2 linked regions of the Homo sapiens genome follow. The protein of the gene in region 1 binds, or shares a complex with, the protein of each later gene. Each region holds a gene or a part of one and is shown in the gene's direction. Other genes may lie near its edges.

Region 1 (6,965 bases):
GTGCCCTGTTCCAGACCTTTACCCACCCAAGGCCTCCCTCCCCAGACCCTCCCCAGCATGGGTCCCCCATCTCAGGCCCATGCCCTTCCCCCATCTCATGTCCAGGCCTCTTCTCAGTACCTCTGTCCCAGGCCTTGCCAACCTGGGTACCCCCCAATTCCAGCCCCTCACCTGTCTGAGGCCCCTGTTTTCCCAGAGGCGTCCCCTGCTGGCTCCTTCCCCTCCTTCTCAGGCAGGTTGCCCAACACCTCCTGGCTTGCTATGGGCAGAACTGACTTCACCTCTCCGCCAGGCCTTCTTGCTCTTGCAGGTGTAGGTCACCATACGCCCCATGCCCAGCTTTAAGGGAGGCTGCTGTGACCGTTTTGAGAAGCCCCTGGGTATGGCCACAGAGAAGGGGTGGGGCGGCAAGGCAGATGGTCCCGGCCCCCTCCTCCTCACATGTCCCTCTTGGCTCATCATCAGGGAAATGGCACCCTGGTGGCGGAACATGGAGGAGCAGCCTGAAATTCATGATCAGGGCTTCGGAGCTGGGGCCTCCATCCTGAGAAGGTCCCCAATTCAGATCCTGTAACAGCCACCCCAGGACCAACTGCTTAAGAACAGGAAGAGTTTTCAAATTAAAACCTCCAGTTGGAAACTTCCCAGAATTCTGGGAAGCAAAGACTGGGGAGGATGGGAGGTTGGGGGAGATTAGTTGGAGGTAGAGGGGGCAGGGGTTTGATGAAGCAGGGAAGGAGGTGTGGGGGGCAGGCAGGGATTTTGGGGGAAAGGGGGTGGAGACTTGGAGGAAAAGATGTGAGAGCCCCAGGAAGCTTGGCAGGGAGCAAACAGGGAGAGGCAGGGAGGGAACTGAACCCTGAGGGCAGGGGCTATTGAGGACTGCACACACCTCTGTCCTTCCTGGGTTTGTTCTGTCCTCAAGAACACTCCCAGCAGCCAGACAGTATCTGTCTTCCCTCTTAGCATCCAGGTTTTGTGTCCAGGTGGTAGCACAGACCCCACTAAGTCTATTTATTTATTTGTTTTTATTTTTATTTATTTATTTTTTTGAGACAGAGTCTCGCTCTGTCGCCCAGGCTGGAGTGCAGTGGGCTATCTCGGCTCACTGCAAGCTCTGCCTCCTGGGTTCACGCCATTCTCCTGCCTCAGCCTCCCAAGCAGCTGGAACTATAGGCGCTTGCTACGGCGCCCAGCTAATTTTTTGTATTTTTAGTAGAGATGGGGTTTCACCGTGTTAGCCAGGATGGTCTCGATCTCCTGACCTCGTGATCCACCCGCCTCGGCCTCCCAAAGTGCTGGGATTACAGGCGAGAGCCACCGGGCCCGGCCTTGTTTTTATTTTTATTTTTAATTTCTTGAGATGGAGTCTAGCTCTGTCGCCAGGCAGGAGTGCAGTGGCACAATCTTGGCTCACTGCAACCTCCGCCTCCTGGCTTCAAGCGATTCTCCTGCCTCAGCCTCCTGAGTAGCTGGGACTACAGGTACCCGCCATCACGCCCGGCTAATTTTTGTATTTTTAGTAGAGACAGGGTTTCACCATGTTGGCCAGGATGGTCTCGACCTCTTGACCTTGTGATCCACCTACCTCGGCTTCCCAAAGTGCTGGGATTACAGGCATGAGCCACCGTGCCCGGCCCTATTTTTATTTTATTTTTTTGAGATGGGGTTTCACTCTTGTCACCCAGGCTGGAGTGCAGTGGTACAATCTCAGCTCACTGCAACCTCCGCCTCCTGGGTTCAGCAATTCTCCTGCCTCAACCTCCCAAGTAGCTGGGATTATAGGCGCACGCCACCACAACCGGCTTTATTTTATTTATTTATTATTATTATTATTTTTTGAGATGGAGTTTCGCTCTTGTTGACCAGGCTGGAGTGCAATGGCGCAATCGCAGCTTACCACAACTCTGCCTCCCGGGTTCAAGCAATTCTCCTGCCTCAGCCTCCAGAGTAGCTGGGATTACAGGCATGCGCCACCACGCCTGGCTAATTTTGTATTTTTAATAGGGGTGGAGTTTCTCCACGTTGGTCAGGCTGGTCTCGAACTTCCAACCTCAGGTGATCAGCCAGCCTCGGCCTCCCAAAGTGCTGGGATTACAGGCGTGAGCCACCGTGCCCGACCAATTTTTTTTTTTTTTTTTTGAGACGGAGTCTCATTCTGTCACCCAGGCTGGAGTGCAGTGGCGTGATCTCGGCTCACTGCAAGCTCTGCCTCCTGAGTTCACGCCATTCTCCTGCCTCAGCCTCCCATGTAGCTGGGACTACAGGCGCCTGCCACCATGCCCGGCTAATTTTTTTGTATTTTTAGTAGAGACGGGGTTTCACCATGTTAGCCAGGATGGTCTCAATCTCCTGACCTCAGGTGATCCACCTGCCTTGGCCTCCCTTTTGTGTATTTTTAAAAGAGACGGGGTTTCGCCATGTTAGGCAAGCTGGTCTTGAACTCCTGACCTCAGGTGATCTGCCTGCCTCGGGCTCCCAAAGTGCTGGGATGGGATTACAGGCGTGAGCCACCGTGCCCGGCCTTTTTTTTTTTTTTTTTTTTTTTTCTAGAGACAGACTCTCCCTCTGTTGCCCTGGTGCAATCATAGCTTACTGCAGCCTCGACCTCCTGGGCTCAAGCAATCCTCCCACCTCAGCCTCCCCAGTAGCTAAGACCACAGGCATACAACACCATGCCTTGCTAATTTTTTTTTTTTTTTTTTTTTTTTTTGGTATAAGCAGGGTATTGCTGTTGCCCAGGCTGGCCTGGAACTCCTGCACCTGGCCTCAAGCGATCCTCTTGCCTTGGCCTCCCAAATGGCTGGGATGGGATTCTAGGCGTGACACACCGCAGCTGGCTGCCTTTTTTGTTGTTGTTGAGACAAGGTCTTGCTCTGTTGCCCAGGGCGGAATGCAGTGGTGCAAACATGGCTCACTGTGGCCTCGACTTCCTGTGCTCAGGTGATCCTCCTGCCTCAGCCTCCTAGGTAGCTGGGACCACCAAATGCACAGGTGTGCACTACCATACCCAGCTAATTTCTAATTTTTTTTTGTAGAGACATGGTCTCACTTTGTTGCCCAGGCTGGTCTTGAACTCCTGGGCTCAAGCAATCCTCCCACCTCAGCCTTCCAAAGTGTTGGGATTACAGGCGTGAGCCACTGGGCCCAGCCTCTATTGAGTTTTAATCTCCGTTTACTTGACTATCACCTTCAGGATTTCAAACATCCAGAGACCACCAAGGTGCATGGTGCACAGGTCTAAATTGCAGGTTGAATCTCAATCTAGTATTAGTATTCCCCAATGCGACTACAGAACTGATTATTACTATTTATTTTTTTTGAGATGGAGTCTTGCACTGTCACCAGGGCTGGAGTGCAATGGCGCAATCCTGGTTTACTGCAACCTCCACCTCCCAGGTTCAAGGGATTCTCCTGCCTCAGCCTTCCAACTAGCTGGGATTACAGGCGCCCGCCACCACACCCAGCTAATTTTTTGTATTTTTAGTAGAGACGGGGTTTCACCATGTTAGCCAGAATGGTCTCGATCTCTTGACCTCGTGATCTGCCTGCCTCAGCCTCCCAAGGTGCTGGGATTATAGGCGTGAGCCACCGCGCCTGGCCCAGAACTGATGATTAACCCAGCTGAGCCTCTGTTCATCTGAATGGGTATTGTCAACAGCACTCACTTACAAGAGTTGCTGAGAAGATCCAATGAGACAAATAGTTGCTAAAGTGCCAGGCATGCAGCAGTGCTTAAGAAACTTCTCACCCTGGGTTTTTTATTGGTATTGATTGATGTAGAGGTGGGGGAGAAGATCAAAGACAAGGATTGAGAATCAGGGATGGGAAAAGCAGTGGGCCACTGACAGCCGCCCTGCCTGCCTGGGAGGTGGGGTGGGGAAAGTGGGCGGGACATGCTCCTGGGCCTGGCCCACCCAGATCACCCTACAGGCTGTCGGCCTGTGCGTCTGCATCCGGTGGCCACAGAGCAACTTCCTCTAGAGGGAGCTGATTGGAGCCGGGTGCCGCTGGCACCTCTATGATCACTGGAGTCTCGCGGGTCCCTCGGGCTGCACAGGGACAAGTAAAGGCTACATCCAGATGCCGGGAATGCACTGACGCCCATTCCTGGAAACTGGGCTCCCACTCAGCCCCTGGGAGCAGCAGCCGCCAGCCCCTCGGGACCTCCATCTCCACCCTGCTGAGCCACCCGGGTTGGGCCAGGATCCCGGCAGGTAAGCTGGAAGGGTCTTGTCCATCCTCCCAGATCTCAGCAGCCCCAGCCCCAGGGTGGGGCAGGGAGCCTGCCGGGAGCCGGGTGGGGAAGGGGAAGCTCAAGGCTTCCCTGGGCAGGTCTGCCGCCCCGGCTGGGGACCTGATCCTGCCATGCCTGCCTCTGGCTGCCCCTCACAGCTTCCCCTCTTGGCCCAGCCCTGGATGCCGGAGAACTGTAAGAACTGGGTCCTTTAACAGTCTGGGAGATGGGAGTGGAGGTCAGAGCCAAGGTCAAGGGCAGAGAGAGAACTTTCTCAGCGCTTGCTGCTGCCCAACATCCCTAGACTGGGTCCAGGGCCTGGCCAGGCATGTATCCCTGGGCAACATTCATCGGGGCCCAGCAAGCCCAGGAAGTCGGGGGTGGCTCCCCTCACCGGGAATTTAGGCCACTTGGATGGGGGAGGCAGAGCTAGGCCTGAGTCAGCATAGGTTGCTGGCCTTGGTGGGTGTTCTGAGGCTCTACCTGCTCCCCTCGGAAGCCTGGGGTGTTGGTAGAGGGAGTTGGAGGTGCAGTCAGCATCCTCCAGCCCTACTGTCCTGGGGGTGCCGGGTCCTGGAGACTGGGGAAGAAGGAAGGCCATCTTATGTAAGGAGCTACGGGGGGTGGGAGGCAAGCAAAACTCTTTTTTTTTGTTTTTTGAAATGGAGTCTCGCTCTGTTGCCCAGGCTGGAGTGCAGTGGCGCAATCTCGGCTGACCGCAACCTCCGCCTCCAAGGTTCAAGCGATTCTCCTGCCTCAGCCTCCCGAGTAGCTGGGACTACAGGCGCACGCCACCATGCCCAGCTAATTTTTGTATTTTTAGTAGAGATGGGGTTTCATTATGTTGGCCAAGCTGGTCTTGAACTTCTGACCTCGTGGGCCACTATGCCCGGCTGCAAAGTTCTGTTTTAACAAGGCCTTGCCCCTAGAGGTGGAGGAGAGGAAGGTCTGCCTTCACCCTGTCCCTGTCCGGCAGATCGAGGAGGAGTGGGGAGCTGGGTGAGGGCACAGGTGGTCCAGCCCTCCTCCACCCCTTCTTGAGAGCTCTTGGGGCACTTTCGAAAACACTCCCAGGCCTAGCGGAAGGAGGGTGGGCGAAGGTCCCCAGGCCCTGGGCGGTGGGGGTGGGGCTGTGTGCTTGGCCCAGGGTGGGGCTGCACACCCCCTCCCTCTGGGATAGGAGGAGGGCGCTCTCCTTCTGAGGGCTGGAGGCTGCCTGGGGAAATGGGGCTCTGGGAGGGGTGCAAACTGAAAGTGAAACAGCTGACATCCAGGAAACACTCGCCCTGATGAGGGGTCACAGCAGGTTGGGGCTGCGGTCAGGACCAGGCAAAGAGGAAAATTGGGGCCGGGGACAGAAGACCAGGTGTGTGGTGGGAGTACGAGGCAGGTTATGGGGCTTCAAAGAAGGCCCTGATCCTGAGGGCTCCCTCCGGTCACTGCAAGGCAGCAGTGGGGAAGGCACAGACAGGAGGTAAATAGGGAAAGTTGCCCTGAGAAAGAACACACTCTGAGGTCCACAAACTGGAAAAGAAATCTTGCATGCGTGTTGAGTACATGGACTCACGGAGATTCAGACAAACAACCTGACTTTCCGTGACTAACGATGTGACCTCGGGCACTCAACTCTTTGTGCCTCACTTTTCCTGCCTGTAAAGTGGGTATGATGGCGCTCACCCTGCTGGGTTCATGTGAGTTTCCAGTGTTCACCACCCACAGAGTGCTCCTAAGTGGGAGAGTATATCTTAGGCTCTCAGGAAATGTTTGCGGCTAACAGCCCAGAGTTAAAAAACAGGTGTGTTCTGGCCAGCCAGAGGGAAGTAGGGCCTCTGAGGACAGCCTTCATGGGCCATTGGCTGGGCAGTGGCTCGCTTGCAATAAGCATGTGCTGGGTGGGCTGCAGGAGGCCCCAGGAACAGCTAAAAACCCCCCAGGCTCTTGCCCCAGGAGTGGCATGAACTTGAGAGCCAGCGGGCACTGCTGCAGCCACACCCTCCTCGATGGTGCAGATACCTCAGTCTGCCCTTGGCTGCCTCACCTTCTTACCCTGTCTCCCTCAAAGAGGGAGTGTTCAGTAAGTTGTTTCCTCCCAGCAGACTTCACTGGGACCCATGCTGGAGTAAGAATAAAAAGTCCCAGAGGAGGCCAGGCACGGTGGCTCACACCTGTAATCCCAGCACTGTGGATGGCCGAGGCAGACTCACGAGGTCAGGAGTTTGAGACCGGCCTGGCCAAAGTCCCAGAGGACTAAGGGCCTTTCTGGGAATGGGGGATCCTCTCTCCTATGTGGACATGGCAACCTGTATGGGGTCCCCAGTCACAGGTCTGTGCTCACCCCCATCTCTGCTTTTTCTCGCCCTTCCCCGCAGGCTGATCCCGTCCTCCACTGAGACCTGAAAAATGGCTTCGGGGCAAGGCCCAGGTCCTCCCAGGCAGGAGTGCGGAGAGCCTGCCCTGCCCTCTGCTTCTGGTAAGGGTCTTCCTGCCCCCTCACCCATCCCATAACCATGAGTGCTGTCGTGAGGATGGAAGGAGCAGGACTCAGGCAGGCTCCTTCGCCTCGGTTCACCCACTGTGGGTGGGGAATACTCTTCCCCACCCACGGGCTCAGAGGCTGGAGCTGCTGTCAAGGTTAAGCCCAGGAGGGGGAGGAGTCTGGACTGGGGAGGGCCTGGAGGTTGGGAGAGGCCAGGAAGTGAGTGTAAGGTAGGCACAGTGCCACCGGGGC
Region 2 (7,034 bases), 2.9 Mb from region 1:
AATGTGTTACGCTGGGTTTCGGCGGAGGCTGGGTGTAAACTGATAATGTTTATCTCTTGTTATTCCTGTTAATGGTTTACAAACAGGCTCTGGCCTTCGTATCCCATGTACTGGCTCTGGCAGCTCACATGACCTCTTGTTTATGAACACACAAGTCTCATTCTTGAACCTAATACTGAGAATGCTTAGTTGTTTTTTTTTTTTTTTTTTCAGCCTTATATGAGTGTTGTTGTTGTTGTTTTGAGATGGAGTCTCCCTCTGTCGCCCAGGCTTGAGTGCAATGGCGTGATCTCTGTTCACTGCTACCTCCACCTCCCGGATTCAAGCGATTATCCTACCTCAGCCTCCCAAGTAACTGGGATTACAGGCATGCGCCATTATGCCCAGCTAATTTTTTTTATTTTTAGTAGAGATGGGGTTTCACCAGGTTGGCCAGGCTCTTCTCCAACTCCTGACCTCAGATGATCCACCCGCCTCCGCCTCCCAAAGTGCTGGGATTACAGGCGTGAGCCACCACTCCCAGCCACCTTATATGAGTTTTAAATAAACTGCATTTGGAAAAGAAAATAGGCCGGACGCCTGTAATCCCAGTACTTTGGGAGGCCAAGGCGGGTGGATCACCTGAGGTCGGGAGTTTGAGACCAGCCTGTCCAACATGGTGAAACCCCGTCTCTACTAAAAATACAAAAAATTAGCTGGGCGCGGTGGTGCGCCTGTAATCCCAGCTACTTGAGAGGCTGAGGCAGGAGAATTGCTTGAACCCAGGAGGCGGAGGTTGCAGTGAGCCAGGATCGCACCACTGCTCCAACCTGGGCGATACCGAGACTCCGTCTCAAAAAAAAAAAAGTTCCAATAACCCACTGAGCCACCACAGAAAGCTATGAGATATTTATTTAGTAGATAGGTAAACTTTATTTCGCAAGCCCAAGGGGATAATTTACTTTTCATCCCCCTCTCTTTAAAAACAGAGAACCTCCAACAAATGGTATATAAAGGAAAACAAAGCAAACAAAAGAGGGAAACTTTGCAATTTATTAACTCAAGCATGAAAATACAGAAAATAAAGAGGGCTCAACATACTTGGAAAAGTAAGTCTGAACTTACTGCATTAAAACATGGTGTTGCGCTAATCCTGCCGGGCGCAGTGGCTCATGCCTGTAATCCCAGCACTTTGGGAGGTCGAGGCGGGCGGATCACGAGGTCAGGAGATCAAGACCATCCCGGCTAACACGGTGAAACCCCATCTCTACTAAAAATACAAACAATTAGCCGGGCGTGGTGGCAGGCACCTGTAGTCCCGGTACTCGGGAGGCTGAGGCGGGAGAATGGCGTGAACCCAGGAGGCGGAGCTTGCAGTTAGCTAAGATCACGCCACTGCACTCCAGCCTGGGCGACAGAGCGAGACTCAGTCTCAAAAAACAAAAAACAAACAAACAACAACAACAAAACATAGTGTTGCACTAATCCAATGAATTGTCAGGCAAATGAGGCATGAAACATTGCCAAAATACAAAGTCAGTAAAATATCCATATTACTCTTTGTCATTATATGTTTTATTTTATTGGGATCTGGTAAAGAATAGATTATTCCCAAATCTACATTACTAGCAAAATAAGTGAAATTATTTTACAAAGAATTTATTATTCTGGTAAATTGTTAATAGTGGCAGGTCAAAAGCAACTGAAACTCCAACAAAAGATACACATGTGCCTCATTTATAAGAAAGCATTAATAGGCCGGGCTCGGTGGCTCACGCCTATAATCCCAGCACTTTGGGAGGCCGAGGCAGGTGGATCACCTGAGGTCAGGAGTTCGAGACCAGCCTGATCAACATGGTGAAACCCCGTCTCTACTAAAAATACAAAAATTAGCTGGGCGTGGTGGCAGGTTCCTGTAATCCCAGCTACTCGGGAGGCTGAGGTAGGAGAATCACTTGAACCCGGGACGTGGAGTGTGCAGTGAGCCGAGATAGCGCCACTGCACTCCAGCCTGGACGACAGAGCAAGACTCTAAAAAAAAAAAAAAAAAAAAAAGCAGTGGCTGGGCACGGTGGCTCACGCCTGTAATCCCAGCACATTGGGAGGCTGAGGAGGGCAGATCACAAGGTCAGGAGATCGAGACCATCCTGGCTAACACGGTGAAACCCCGTCTCTACTAAAAATATTTTAAAAAATTAGCCAGGCATGGTGGCGGGCGCCTGTAGTCCCAGCTACTCAGGAGGCTGAGGCAGGAGAATGGCATGAACCCAGGAGGCAGAGATTGCAGTGAGCCGAGATCGCGCCATTGCACTCCAGCCTGGGCGACAGAGCAAGACTCCATCTCCAAAAAAAAAAAAAAAACCCACACAAAAAATATTTTTTGTTTATATGTGAAACAGACAAGTTCTAGATTCAGATCATTATAACTGGATTTTTTGCCTACATGAATATCCAGAGGGACAGTCAACATACAGAATGTAGGACAATTTTTTTGTGGAGGGCAGGACCTTTACAGGCATTGGAGGAGGTCTGACATACCTGACTCTACCTATTAAATTTGGGTTTTTTTTGGTTTTGTTTGTTTGTTTTGAGATGGAGTCTCGCTCTGTCGCTCAGGCTGGAGTGCAGTGGTATAATCTCGGGTCACTGCAACCTCCACCTCCTAGGTTCAAGCGATTCTCCTGCCTTAGCCTCCCAAGTAGCTGGGATTATAGGCCCGTGACACCACGCCCGGCTAATTTTTGTATTTTTAGTAGAGACAGGGGTTTCACCGTGTTGGCCAGGCTGGTCTTGAACTCCTAACCTCAAGTGATCCGCCCACCTCAGCCTCCCAAAGTGCTGGGATTACAGGCATGAGCCACTGCACTTGGCCTCTATATTTGAATATAACCTCACATTAATGTAACTGTACAATTGCACCCCAAAATTTTGAACAATGCCCCCTAGAGACTAGTACACCCTAGTTGAAGCCTACTTATCAAATATCCCATACTGTGAAATTTTTGTTCACTGTTGTAACCTTGCATCTAGTTTGATGCCTGACACATAGTAAGAATTTAATAAATATTTCCCAATGGACACAAGAGAGTTCCTTTTACTTACATGGCATTTTTCATATTCCTTATGATAATGATTCACATTTGTTTTTCCAGTCCTGACCTCTCTTCTGAGCTCCAAATTCATATTGGCAAATGCCCACTTAACATCTTTACTTGAATGACTTTCACATACCTCAAACACTAAGTATATCCAAAATTGAACTCATCATTTCCTGCCATTGCATCCCTCCCCCAGATACAACCCAGTACCAAACAAGGCAAAATGTTAATTCCGTGCTGGTGCTCTCTGGTTTAGTAACTGCCACTATGACCCACTTACTTAAGGAATCATCAAAACCCTGGCATTATCCATGATTATTTTCTACTTATCATCCCATTTTCTAATCAATCAATTCTAGTTCCTAAATCTCAAATTTATCTCCTTTCCATCTCCAGTGCTTCTGTCCTAGTGGATTATTGAATTACTACAGTGGTCTCTTGCCTGCTTCCAAACCACCTCCATCCAGTAGCCAAAGTGATCTTTTAAAACAGAAATCCCATCAGGTCATCCCTATGTTTAAATTCCTTAAAGAGTTTCTCACTTTTTTTTTAGGACAAAATCTAAAGCCCTGCAGGATTTGGCCCCTGCCTATGTATCTTTTCTTATTTTGTGCCACTTACTCAGTACTCTGCAATCATGCTGGCTTTTTTTTTTTTTTTTTTTGGCTTACTTTTTTTTTTAATTAATTTTTATTAAATGAATCCAGGCACATCATTTAAAAACCAATCATTGTTAAGCAGTTTATTTTTTGAAAAAGTTTATGGCACAGTCTTGTTTTCCAGGATCCCTGCTTTCATCTCTGTTGACTTACTCCTTTCTTTTGGTAGAGCCCTTCCCTTCTCCACTAGCTTCCTGATGCAAGGGAGGTTAATTTTTTGAGATGTTGCAGGAAAAGGGGGTTTATTCTAGTCTTACTTGTTTGTTAGTGTGAGTAGGTGTACAGTCTAGATTGGAAAACATTTTCTCTCAGGATTTTGAAAGCTCTGCTGTCTTCTAACTTCCAATAGTGCCATCAAGTTTGTTCTTAATTGATTTTTTTCAATCTGGAAGATTTTAGGATCTACTGTTTATCATTGATGAATTCCAAGATGTGTGTGTGTATATTGGTTTAGGTCTTTTCCATTTGTTGTTCTGGGCCTTTTCATCCTGGAGACATATTTTGTTCTTTTGTTCTGCGATGTTTTCTTGCATTTGTTTGTTTCTTTTCTTTTCTTAGGGACAGGGTCTTACTCTGTCACCCAGGCTAGAGTGCAGTGGCATGGTCATAGCTCACTGCGGCCTGGAACTCCTGGGCTCAAGTATCCTCCTGCCTCAGCCTCCTGAGTAGCTGGACTACAGGAGCAGAGCACCATGTCCAGCTAATTAAAAAAAAAAAATTTTTGTAGAGATGGGGGTCTACCTATCTTGGCCAGGCTGGTCTTGAACTTCTGGGCTCAAGCGATCCTCCTGCCTTGACCTCTCGAAGTGCTGGCATTACAGGCGTAAGCCATTGCACCTGGCCTGGTTAATTTTTAAAATTTTTTGTAGAGATGGGGTTCTCCAACTTCTGGGCTGAAGCAATCTTCCCTCCTCAGCCTCCCAAATGCTGGGATTAAAGACATGAGCCATCACACCTGGCCACATTTGTTTCTTTGATAATTTCTTCTCTAAAGCTTTTGCTAATTTTTCTTTTTTCTTTTTTTTTTCTGGAATTCTTATTATTCAGATATTGTAACTTCTAGATACTCTAATTTATCTTTTTTATTGTCCATATTTGTCTTCTGTGACAATTGAGTTTTTCATTACCTTCAAGGGTGATTTTCAATCACATAAAAGTACCTTTCAGAAAAGTTAATCTCCCTAAGCTGTTAAAAGAGGCATAAAGAGAAAATTATAACATTTCAGCTGATACATTTTATTGTTTTAGTTAAAAGGCTAGCAAATTTTAGCAATCAATTGAAAAGGGGCTTTTGCCACTTAACTAAAGACAAATCTTTTCAAACCACAGACATTTCAAATATTTTATTTCTTCTTTATATACCTGAATTGTCTGACTGACAAACCTTCTCAAGTACTTAAGCATCTATTGTAGACCTGATAATGTTATAAATATGCATGATTATTGATTCTCTTATAAACGAACTTCTCTTGGAAATTACAAGTATAGATTTGATTTTATTTGGCCTTTATACACCCAACTATTTCATCAAAACTAAGGAGAATTTCAGTTATGTCATTAATGTTCCATTACGATTGGAACCTATAATGGCTACCTCATTTGGTTGGATTCAACTAATTTATTTATTGCTTTTCAAAATAGGCCACAATTCTTAGAGACATTAACATAAAATTTTATTAAATTTTAGATCTCTCCTGACTTTTTTATTATGAAAAATTTCAAACATAAAAAGTTGAGGGTATAGTATTTCAACAAGTATACCCATTACTTAGATGCAATAATCACCAACATTTTGCTGTGTGTGTACATTCCAAGATGTGTGTGTATATATTGGTTTAGGTCTTTTCCATTCGTCATGCTGGGCCTTTTCATCCTGGAGACATATGTCCTTTTGTTCTGGGATGTTTTTTTGCATTTCTTTGTTTCTTTTCTTTTTCTTTTTCTTTTTTTTTAGAGACAGGGTCTTACTCTGTCAACCAGGCTGGAGTGCACTGGCATGATCATAGCTCACTGCAGTGAGCTCCCAATATTTGCTTTATTTCTATGGCTATTTATTATGAAAAATTTCAAATATAAAGGAAGTTTAAGACAAATACAGCCAACACTAGTATATCCACTACTTATAATAGATTAAACAGTTGTTAACATTTTCTCATATTTTCTTTATTTTTATATTTATCTATTTTGCTGAACTATTTGAAAGTAAGTGGCGGACAATATGACATCTCACTTCAGAATTGCATTTGGCTTTCTTATCTCTTTAGCCTCTTTTCTTTTCTTTTTTTTTTTTTTTCCTGAGACAGAGTCTTGTTCTGTCACCCAGGCTGGAGTGCAGTGGAGTGCAGAGCTCACCGCAATCTCTGCCTCCCAGGTTCATGCCATTCTCCTGCCTCAGCCTCCCGAGAAGCTGAGACTACAGGTGCCTGCCACCACGCCTGGCTAATTTTTTTTTTTTGTATTTTTTGGTAGAGACAGGTTTCATCATGTTAGCCAGGATGGTCTCGATCTGCTGACCTCGTGATCCACCCGCCTCGGCCTCCCAAAATGCTGGGATTACAGGCGTGAACCACCGTGCCCGGCCTAGCCTCTTTTCATGTAGAGCAATGCCCTTCCCCATCTGCCTACCATTTTGTTCCCCCATGACACTGATTTCTTAAGGACATCAGAGCAGTTTTCTTGTAGAATCTTCTCATGACTTTTCCTGAATTATAACAATCTCCAAGGTCATTCTCTTTTGGAGCACTTTTTTTGTCTTTATCTTTCACAATGTATATATTTTTTACAGATTTCTAATTATAGTATTTGTAATTTCCAGCTGCTCTTGTTTATTCTTATAGTGTTTCTTCTTTTAGCATCCTGTTCTTGTTTCATGGATATCATATTTCTCTGATGATATAATTTCTTTGAAGTATTTTTATGCTCCCTGCATTGTCTCAGTTTTCTGTGATTCTTTTCCCCCCTGATTCCTCCATGCTTGAGGTTTAGAATTTTTTTTATGTTACAGATTTTCCTCTAGTATCCGATGATTTTTGTACATTTATATTTTAAGAATAAAGTCCTAAAAGCTAATTGGAAATTCTAAGTATATGCTTGAGTCTTATCAATTGAAAGAATTCACTGGAGGCTTTTTCTATGGGAGCCACCAATATGTCAGGTTTTTTCCCCTAAGAAGTACCTTTTTTTTTTTTTCCTGCTAGAGAGTAGAACCTGGTTATGAAGTTCTACATCTATGCAGGAGAAGAGGCCTGGGTGTTTTCTTTTCAGTAATATGTCTGACTCTCACTCTGATCTATGCCAA

What was found. Proteins that work in one complex are often made in the same cells at the same time.
Region 2: the proteins of BAK1 (region 1) and PXT1 are in contact, whole or in part, in a crystal structure (PDB 8GSV), measured with the Homo sapiens proteins. Residues at the interface, in NP_001179.1 of Homo sapiens: Ile81, Gly82, Asp84, Ile85, Asn86, Arg88, Tyr89, Glu92, Phe93, Met96, Leu97, His99, Leu100, Tyr110, Lys113, Ile114, Ser117, Leu118, Glu120, Ser121, Asn124, Trp125, Gly126, Arg127, Val129, Ala130, Phe134, Asn182; in NP_694535.2 of Homo sapiens: Ile78, Ile79, His80, Lys81, Leu82, Ala83, Met84, Gln85, Leu86, Arg87, His88, Ile89, Gly90, Asp91, Asn92, Ile93, Asp94, Arg96, Met97.

What each region holds. Positions count from the first base shown.
Region 1 is NC_000006.12:33,577,277-33,584,241, reverse strand, and holds the start of BAK1 (bcl-2 homologous antagonist/killer), read left to right. Parts: upstream 1-3,965; 5' UTR 3,966-4,217; intron 4,218-6,333; exon of another isoform or gene 6,334-6,444; intron 6,445-6,606; 5' UTR 6,607-6,637; coding exon 6,638-6,707; intron 6,708-6,925; exon of another isoform or gene 6,926-6,943; intron 6,944-6,965. UniProt on the Homo sapiens protein: Plays a role in the mitochondrial apoptotic process. Upon arrival of cell death signals, promotes mitochondrial outer membrane (MOM) permeabilization by oligomerizing to form pores within the MOM.
Region 2 is NC_000006.12:36,432,821-36,439,854, reverse strand, and holds part of PXT1 (peroxisomal testis-specific protein 1), read left to right. Parts: intron 1-968; 5' UTR 969-1,088; intron 1,089-7,034.